Homo sapiens: one gene and its partner. The protein of the gene in region 2 binds, or shares a complex with, the protein of the main gene of each other region. Each region holds a gene or a part of one and is shown on either strand. Other genes may lie near its edges.

What was found. The genes of interacting proteins can lie anywhere in the genome.
Region 1: SUPT7L (region 2) and TADA3 share a complex: the UniProt entries of both Homo sapiens proteins name them as parts of the STAGA transcription coactivator-HAT complex.

Annotation. Positions count from the first base shown.
Region 1 is NC_000003.12:9,785,436-9,790,441, forward strand, and holds part of TADA3 (transcriptional adapter 3), read right to left. Parts: exon of another isoform or gene 4,529-5,006; coding exon 4,278-4,528; exon of another isoform or gene 4,180-4,277; coding exon 4,074-4,179; exon of another isoform or gene 2,370-4,073; coding exon of another isoform or gene 2,293-2,369; intron 1,906-2,292; coding exon 1,764-1,905; intron 1,675-1,763; coding exon 1,571-1,674; intron 1-1,570. UniProt on the Homo sapiens protein: Functions as a component of the PCAF complex. The PCAF complex is capable of efficiently acetylating histones in a nucleosomal context. The PCAF complex could be considered as the human version of the yeast SAGA complex.
Region 2 is NC_000002.12:27,656,137-27,661,142, forward strand, and holds part of SUPT7L (STAGA complex 65 subunit gamma), read right to left. Parts: coding exon 4,848-5,006; intron 1,534-4,847; coding exon 1,209-1,533; intron 1-1,208.

The DNA.
Region 1 (5,006 bases), on a different chromosome or scaffold from region 2:
ACAAAAATGAGTGGAAGGAAAAATAGCTGTTCCACTTTCCTGCTCCTTTCTGACCTACACTGACAGTCTTCAAACACCAGAAATATCCTTTTATCTTTCCCATCCCACCTACCGTGGGAAGCCTTCCCATACCAATCCCAAATTGCTTTGATCATTCTAGAAATCCCTTTTATTTTCGTACTGATGTGAAGAAAAAGGAACACAGAAGAGAAATGATTAACACTCAATGATGGTAATGAACAGCTAAGGTTTGTGAAGCGTCTGCAACGCACCAGGCAGTGTGCTAGGCCTGCTGTGGCGGAGATGCTAGCTGTCCGAATGCCATACTCTTCTTTCCTCCACGGCAGCTAGGCAATGCCTGTCCAGTTGTACTTCCCAGGCTCTCTTGCAGGCGGGTATGGTCATGTGACAAGTTCTCTCCAGGGGAAAGTGATCAGAAGAGATAAGAGCCATAGCTAGGCATGGGCCAAAAAGTTTCCTTCACACACTCCTCCTTGTTTTGTTTTGTTTTTTTTTTTTGAGATGGAGTCTCACTTTGTCACCCAGGCTGTGGAGTGCAGTGGCACAATTTCGGCTTACTGCAAGCTCCGCCTCCTGGGTTCATGCCATTCTCCTGCCTCAGCCTCCCAAGTAGTTGGGACTACAGGCGCCTGCCACTATGCCCGGCTAATTTTTTTGTATTTTTAGTAGAGACGGGGTTTCATCATGTTAGCCAGGATGGTCTCGATCTCCTGACCTTGTGATCCGCCCGCCTCAGCCTCCCAAAGTGCTGGGATTACAGGCGTGAGCCACCGCGCCCGGCCTCCTTGCTCTTATTCTGTGGGACTGGAGTGACAATTACGCCCAGAGTGACCTTGTGCAGACTGCAAGGCCACCGTCAGCTGGGGTCCCTGTCTGATGATATGAGATAGAGACCTGCCCCTTCCCCTACCTTAGATAACCTGCAACATGTACCCAGACTGTTCCATGAGATAAACTCTTGTGTTTGAGCCAGAATAGAAAACTGAGTCTCAATGAGGTGAAAGAGTGTGAGGGTGTGTCTAAGGTCAACCAGCAGGTATAAAGACAGGGCCCCTGAAGCTAGGGTTTGAATCCTGGTGTGTGAGACCTCAAGTGAACAGTTCCCTTTTCTGAGCCTCAATCTTCTTATCTGTAACACAGCGTTAACCACTGTCCTGGCCTCCAGTGGGAGGATGTGTATAAAGCCCCTCCAACAGATGCTTAGCAAAAGTAATTGTGGAGTAAGGCTACCTTTGGGGAAAGTTGGAGAAAAACAGGGGCATGAGAGGGGCTTCTAGGATATAGTAATGTTTCATTTTGTAATCTCCAGGCTGGTAATACAAGCTCATTTGTGAAAACTGTACATTTATGATCTGTGCACTTTTCTATTAGGTGCACAAGTTATATATTATTCCCAATCTTTTGCTATATATTAGTCCAGGTTTTTACTTTTGCACCAACCTATTTTTGCACCAACCTAATAAATGTATGATAAATTCCGATAAAAAATAAGCATAACACATTAAAACACAAAGTAAATATGGTTCCTCTTTTGGGTTAGGCTGCTCACCTCCACCAGGGCCTGCAGGAGGCGCTGCGTCAGGGCACCAAAGGGGCATCCATCTTCCGGCTGTTCATGCTGGGCCTCAGACTTCTTCAGCAGGGCATCCACATCTAAGCGGGCACAGGAAAGGAGGGGAGGTGGGCTGAAGTTCTGGAATTCAAGTCCTGACCTGGGGTTGGCAGGGAGGTGAGAGGCCTACCTTTAGTGTCCAGTTCGGTCAGTGGCCCCATGAGGCCTTTCTTCTTGTCAGCCACAGCCGCTGCCCGGGCCCCATCCTTCTGCTCCTCCAGCAGGTCCTCCTGGGCCCAGCGCTGGGAGTAGTGCTTCCCCAGGGGTGGGATCTGTGGAAAAGATGGCACCCAACCCTGAGTGGGTAAGCACTGGCCAGCCATGCTTCATTCATTCATTCACTTACCTATCTTATATCTCTCTCAAGTCCCTAGTCCAAGGCCAAGCCCAGTGTCAGGTGTAGGTAAGAAAGTACAACGAAGATAAAACCTGTACTTCACACTCTAGTAAGGGAGACAGGTCCAAAAAGAACTAAGACACACACACAGAAGCCAATCTGAAATAATTCCCAAGATAGAAGGTGCAGAATACGTACACAGATTGTCTCAGGTCACAGCAATTGCCTCTCGAGAGAATTAGGAGCCTTCAGGTCACGGGTGACAGGGAATTACCTTTTGTATTGCTTGAATTTACTGCTGTCTGTATGAACTCTTTTTCAGATAAATTTTTAAGAAATCAGATAAGTGAAGTGAAAGAGAGAGATCAAAGTGTTGTGGCAGCACAAAGGAGAGACTGACTAACTTTCTGCTGGGGAATCTGAAAGAGTGCTTTGGTGGAGGTAACATGAGATCAGGGCCTTGAAGGGTGAGTCAAGTCTGTCAAGGAGACAAGAGGGAGAGAAGAGCTTGCCAGAGGCCCAGAGACCAGCGAGGAGGCTGTGGTGTCCTGGAATGAGGGCGAGATACTTGGTGGGACTGGTCAACACGGCAATGAAGAGGGATATGGCCGAGGAAAATGGAGAGGGGCACTGGAGCTGTGCCAGCAAGGACTGGGATGCGTGGACTTGATCCTGTAGATAACGGGAGGAAGAAAGGCCTGGATGCAGCGCCATGTCATGAGCACATCTGATCATGACAGCTCACCTATGGGAGGATTCTCCCTCAACATTTTTCTGTATTTTCTAAATTTTCTTTAATGGAGCATGTTTTATTTATTTTCATCATTAAAACATAGTTTTATATCTTCTTTTTTTTTTGAGACAGAGTCTTGCTCTGTCACCCAGGCTGGAGTGCAGTGGCACAATCTCAGCTCACTGCAAGCTCCGCCTCCCGGGTTCACGCCATTCTCCTGCCTTAGCCTCCCGAGCAGCTGGGACTACAGGCGCCCGCCACCACGCCCGGCTAATTTTTTCTATTTTTAGTAGAGACGGGGTTTCACCGTGTTAGCCAGGATGGTCTCAATCTCCTGACCTTGTGATCTGCCCGCCTCGGCCTCCCAAAGGGCTGGGATTACAGGCTTGAGCCACCGCACCCGGCTTTTTTTTTTTTAATGGATGGAATCTCCTTCTGTCACCCAGGCTGGAATACAGTGGCACGATCTTGGCTCATTGCAACCGATGCCTCCCCAGTTCAGGTGATTTTCCTGGCTCAGCCTCCCGAGTAGCCAGGATTACAGGTGCATGCCACCGTGCCAGGCTAATTTTTGTATTTTTAGTAGAGACGGCGTTTCACCATGTTGGTCAGGCTGGTCTTGAACTCCTGACCTCAGATGATCTGCCTGCCACAGCCTCCCAAAGTGTTGGGATTACAGGCGTGAGGTGACTTTTATATCTTTTTTTTTTTTTTGGAGACGGAGTCTTGCTCTGTTGCCCAGGCTGGAGTGCAGTGGCGTGATCTCGGCTCACTGCAACTTCCACCTCCCGGGTCCAAGAGATCCTCCTGACTCAGCCTCCCGAGTAGCTGGGACTACAGGCGCACACCGCCATGCCTGGCTAATTTTTTGTATTTTGGTAGAGATGGGGTTTCACCATGTTGCCCAGGCTGGTCTCAAATTCCTGAGCTCAAGCAATCTGCCCGCCCCGGCCTCCCAAAGTGCTAGGATTGCAGGCATAAGCCACTGCTCCCAGCCCAAGTTTTATATCTTAAAGAAAGAAGAAAGGTTCCTCCAGAGGCCTCGAAACAGGAAGAGAGTTAAGAGGCTGTTTGGATAGAAGTTGATGAAGGCTTGGACCAAAGCAGAGGGGATGGGGATAAAGGAACATGGGCAGACTTCACTTAAGTAGATGCTTGAGGGCGTGTTGACATTTGGCTGGGGTAGAGGGGAGGCAGTGCACGGAGAAAGCTGAGTTTGGGCCTAGGTGTCTGGAGGCACTGATGGAGCAGACAGCAGACTGGGCAGGGTTGGGGAAGGAAGATGATGCATGGCTTTGGTAGCTTTACTTCTCAGGCACCTCTGAACTCTCTTGTTCCGCATCATGTCTATCAAGGCCCAGAGTTTCTACCTTGTAATGCTCAGCCTCATCTTCTGGGGGCTTCAGTAACTCCTCAAGTGTGCGGACCTCCTCGCTGGTGATGTCAGCACAGTAGGGCTCCACTGAAGCCCAGAACCTGCAGGGAGAAGCAGATCCTGAGTGGGCGCCCCTGCCCCACCAGTGCCTCCACCACCAGAACCTTGAGGCCCCCTTCTATGTTCTCTAGCCCAGAACCTGTTGGGGGCATCATTTTTGGGGATCCGTGGCACGTCGATAGGGTCATCAGTGAATTCATATTCCTGGATCTTGGGCTGAAGGTTTTTGGATTTGGGCCGTCCTGGGCCAGGGCCCGGCCCATGTCCTGCCTTCCCTTCCAGTTTCTGCTTCTTGGGCTTCCCATGTTTGGGGGGAGCTCCAAGTTCATGGTCTCGACCCAGCTTCAGGAATCGTCTGTCACCTTTCTTATCCTGCCAGTCGGTGAGGATCTGAAATTTACAGAAAGTGTCACTGAGGGGGAGAAGGGAAAACACAGAATATCTCTTTCCTCTAGTGAATAAATTAGGATCTAGAATCTACAGAGGCTCCTGGGTCTTTCCCCATCCTCTTTTTACCTAGTAAACTCTTACTCATCCTTCAAAATTCAGCTCATTTTCTGTGCCTGGCCTCCTAGAACTTTATTCATATACTTCTCATAATCTCATTCACTTGTTCATCTATACTGATTCACTTCTGTATCACCCATGCCAGTCACATACTGTTTAACAGAAGAGTCCTCTCAGCAAACCTTCACTTCGATGTCACCACTACTGAGATGCCTTCTCTCAATCAGTTACCCAGGTTCTTAGATGCTAAAATACAACTTGAGTCATAGCCTTCCTCAAGGAGGGTCCATGGATTCCCAGGGACAAGTTAATTCCATTCATCCTTTTAGGTCCAGTTGGCACCTCCTTCCTCCACAAGTCT
Region 2 (5,006 bases):
CCCAGGCAACCCTGTCTAAAAAAAGGGAAAAAAAAGTTGACATATGTATCCTAGGTGAATAATCAATGGTGTGGGAAATCTGGATCACTTAGCAAAGACTTTTTTCTTGGGTGTTAAAAATTCCTAATCATATTTTAGACCTGCAGAAACTGAAACAGTGAACAAATGACTTAAGAGCACAAGGGCTGAAGAGATTAGATATTTCTGGTTCCAAGCAAAATCATCACCCCCCACCAACCCATCCTCCAGGCAATATCATTTTACTCTGTTTTTTTCATAGCACTTAACATTATCCAAAATTGTATTTTTTTGTGTATGTGCTTAGAGACAGGGTCTTGCTATGTTGCCCAGGCTGGTCTTAAACTTCTGGCCTCAAACAATCCTCCCACCTCAGCCTCCCAAGCAGCTATATTAGATATATATATTACAATTCCAGTCAAACCATTATATTAGCTGCTTGAGAGGCTGAGGCAGGAGGATTGTCAGTAGGTCTGTGTTCTCTTTTTTTTTTTTTCAGACAGGGTCTTGCTCTGTCACCCAGGTTGGAGTGCAATGGCACAATCATGGCTCACAGCAGCCTTAACTTCCTGGTCTCAAGTGACCTTCCCACCTCACACTCCCAAGTAGCTGAGACCACAGGCATGAGCTACCATGTCCAGCTAATTTTTATTTTTTAATTTTCTGTAGAGATGGGGTCTCACTATATTGTCCAGGCTGGTCTTGAACTCCTGGCCTCAAGCAATCCTCCCACCTCAGCTTCCCAAGTAGCTGGGATTACAGGCATGTGCCATCATGCCCAGCTCCTGAAATTGTTTTGATTGTTATTTATTGACTTGTGTTTGTCTCCCTTCAAAAACAATGTAAACTCAGGTAACTTAGTAACTGCTGAATCCCACAATGCTCGACTCTCAACAGGCACTCAATAAATACTTGTTGAATAAAATCAGACTAACTGCATTCTCTCAGATTCCATATACTTGTGGATAGTTTCTTCCAGAGGAAGTATCAGTGAATGTGGCCATTCACTGACTAAAGGAGACCCATGGTATTTGGCCAGGAACATCGCTAGGGCCATCATAAAAGTATGTTAAGTTCACTCTGTTCCAAGACTCTGTGCTCTGCACTCTAGACCAAGTGTTGTGGGATCCTGCTGAACACTCCGAGATTGCACAGACATCTGTGCCCACTTTTCAACAGGGTCGCCTCACCTGTAGCATGTAACTGTGATAGTCCTTGATGCGGTGCTGCCAGAACTTCTGGAGGGAGAGCACACTGCCAATACCCACTTCATGGAATACCTGCTCCATCACATCAGGAAAAGGAGTCTGTCCCAGCCGGGCCTCCCGGTCCACAGCAAAACGCAGCAACTTGGTAAACTTAAGGCAATACTCATGTGCCACATCAGTTAGGGTCTCCAGGACACTCTCATTAGCACAGTCAAAGCCCGCGTGGGCCAGGATTGTGGCCACTGCCTGGTAGAGGAGCTGCCGACAGGAGTGCCAGCTGAGTTCAGTCACAGGTTCCCCTTTCCCACTGAAAGTGGAGATACGGTGGTGTTATTAATGTTCTTGCAAAGGGGTGACCCCTCCTGTCTTCCCCAGGAGTTTTACAATTCCAGTCAAGCCACTGGCCTAGCTTTCCAGGGAAATTCCATCCAAGTTACATAGCTCAGTTTCATCCTGCTGCTATCTGGGCATGTCTTAGCAACCCATGGTCATATCTTTGAGCTCCTCCAAAGACATAGTTTGAATAGGCAATACATGTCTATAATACACAATCCAAAAGGATATCTAGTGAAAAGAAAGTTTCCTTCTAGCAACTGTTCAATTTTGATCACTTTTAGGATTAAGTTTAACAGTATAGCCCAGACACTGCTCAATGATGCTCTAATTATTTTACCATAACCTAGTTTTCATACATGCTGGGCAATATATTAATACAAACTTTTAGAAATTCACAGTTCCAATAAAGAGATTCTTCACAGTTCCCAGGAGTTTAAGATTCTTAGATTCTTATAAAGTTACAAGGGACCATTTCAAAACAGGGAAGTCAACTCAATTTTATAAAAGCAATTTAAAACATATATAGCTTACAAAGCATTTTCATCCTATCCTGTGTTGTGCAATGGGTAGGGTCTGTATTATTATTATTTCTATTTGCCAGGAGAGGAAACAGGTTTAGAAGGGCTGACTTGCCAAAATTTGTTTACATATAATTAGTAAGTGGTAAAGCTTCTGACTCCAGAAACCGTATCCTGCATAATACACCATTTTGCCCCTAATCACTACTGCAGAAATCTTAATTTTCCAAGAAAAAAATTAAGAAAGCTATTTGATCTAAAAATAACTTAAGAAGCTTTTAATAATTTACCTGTCTCTTGAAATTTCCTACTGGCTTCTGCCTACCCCTGACAAAGGAATTTATTTTACCAATAAAAATAAAATAGAGCACAGAAAATCATTTTTCCTTGGTTCGTACTTGGCATGTGTCATCACGCACTGTACAAAAGTGCCTGAGTGGTTATCCACCCACTAAACTCTGACCTGTTCAATAGCAACTATTGCAGTTTACATAATAGTTTGACAATAAGATAACTAATTGCCAAGTAACTTTTCATTTACTATCTTCATCATTTCCATGGCCAGTGTCTCTGGGCCAAAAGCTAAAGGCCTCATAAGTACCTAATAAACAGAGACAACTAAACCAATATCACTTTCCTAGAATAATATCTGGACCTCTTTCAAAGGAAAGTAATTTTTTGGTGCCCCCATAACTGATGCAAATTATTTTTGTTATACAGTTTCCTAAATATGTATAAAATAAAACCAGGTACAAACTTTTGATGGTCATGGCTCTTACTATATAAATTTGATACAAAACTAAAAATGAATAAACAGCATCAATTTAATATGATAGATAACATTATATTGTTGAAATTAAATTGCCCTCAATATGTGAATACAGTATTGATCACCACAGAGCAAGTTTTTTGAGTTGGGCGTGTCTATGCTAGCATATGCTGTGCATGTAATAACACAGTTATGCCTCCCCTTTTCATTATTCCAGTGACTTCAGAACCTTTGATTACAATGGACCTTGATATAATCTGGCCTTCACCTGGCCCAACTGCAATGCAACCCCTGTGTATTTAGTCTATTTCTGTACTTTTCTCATTAGTTTGGGAACCACTAAAATAGTATTACCAGCAACAGGTAGATGTAATAAATAACATATAATATCACTTCTGTAGTATTCTTGCCGAACATATTTAATCTGAATCTAATCTTGAGGAAATAATCAGCAAATCCAGTAATTGGGACATTCTACAAGCGACCTGAACTCATAAAAGACTCTAAAGAGGCATAACAACCAGGTACAATGCATGAATCTTTGTTAGATCCTGGATTCGAGGGAAAAGACATTTACAAAAGATATTTTGTAAATATACTTACAAAAGATAATTGGAAGAATGTGAATATGAACTTATTAAATGGTACTTAATGTTCATTTACTTTGGTAATGGTATTATGATTATGCAGGAAAATTTCCTTATTCTTAGGATATGCATGCTGAGGAATTTAGGGGTGAAATATGGTGATGTCTGCAACTTACTTTAAAATGGGGGAAAAAATGTGTGCATATACAAGTATGCATATATGTATGTTTGTATATGTGTGTATATATGTGTATACACACACATATGTGAGAAAGTAAATGTGGCAAAATGTTAAACATTAGTGAGTCATGGTGAAGGTATTTGGATGTTTGTTGACTATTACACATTTCTGTAGGTTTGGCAAATTTCAAAATGAAAATAAAAAAGTAATTGGCATTAAATACAACTTGCACACTGACATCTAGTAGCAGCTCTAGGTTATAAGGCAGTCACGTTCAGAGGATGTGGAGCAGAGCTTCTCAAACTTAAATGCACATACAAATCTCCTGGAGATCTTGTTATAATGCAGATTCTGATTCAGCAGGACTGGGTGAGGCCTGAGATTCTGCATATCTAAAAAACTGCCAGGTGATGTTGATGCTGCAGATCTTGGACCAGATATTGAGTAGCAGGGATCAATAACATTTTTATATTATTATTTCTTTTTTTTTTTTTCCAGACAGGGTCTCACTCAGTCACCCAGGCTGGAGTGCAGTGGAGTGATCTGCAATCTCTGCCTCCCCTGGGTTCAAGTGATTCTCGTGCCTCAGCCTCCCGAGTAGCTGGGACTACAGATGTGCGCCACTACACCTGACTAATTTTTGTATTTTTAGTACAGATGGGGTTTCGCCATGTTGGCCAGGTTGATTTTGAACTCCTGGCCTCAAGTGATCCACCCACCGTGGCTTCCCAAAGTCTTGGGGTTACAGGCATGAACCACTGTGCTCAGCTTATATTATTATTTCTTGAACTATGTTATCAAAATGAAAACACACAATTTAAAGATTCTTGTGTAGACTTGCGGATTCCTAAAAATACCAGAATAAGTCCATGAATCCCAATTTGAAGACAACGAGCTAAACCCATAATTTTTTTTTATATTAAATAGAAAGACTAGATCCTAAGAACTATGAGGCCATGGCCTTTTTTACATACCAGTGTATTACCCTGCTCCTAGTAAAGTGCTTGGCACATAGTAAGCACTCAAAAAATTAAAAAATACAGACCCTGAATTCTGAAGACTGGCATTCAAAACTTAGATATCCCACTAATTACCTGGAGAAACCTTGGCCAAGTCAATTACTCTTATCCTCAGTTTCCTCGCATGAAAATGGAAATGCTATTATAGGCTTAACAGGGTTGTTGGGAAGATGACTTGAGAAAAGTAAGATACAGCAAAGCCTTGCCTTACCGATAAAAGTCACTCTCTGGGTCACTGTGCCGGATCTGGAATGGTGCATTGGGATTCTTACAATCTAAAGGCAGGAGGTCATCAGGGAGAGGAGGTGACCCAGGGCACGAGGGAAGAGGTTCACTCTCTTCAGTTTTTACACCTTCTGTCTGCTGCTGA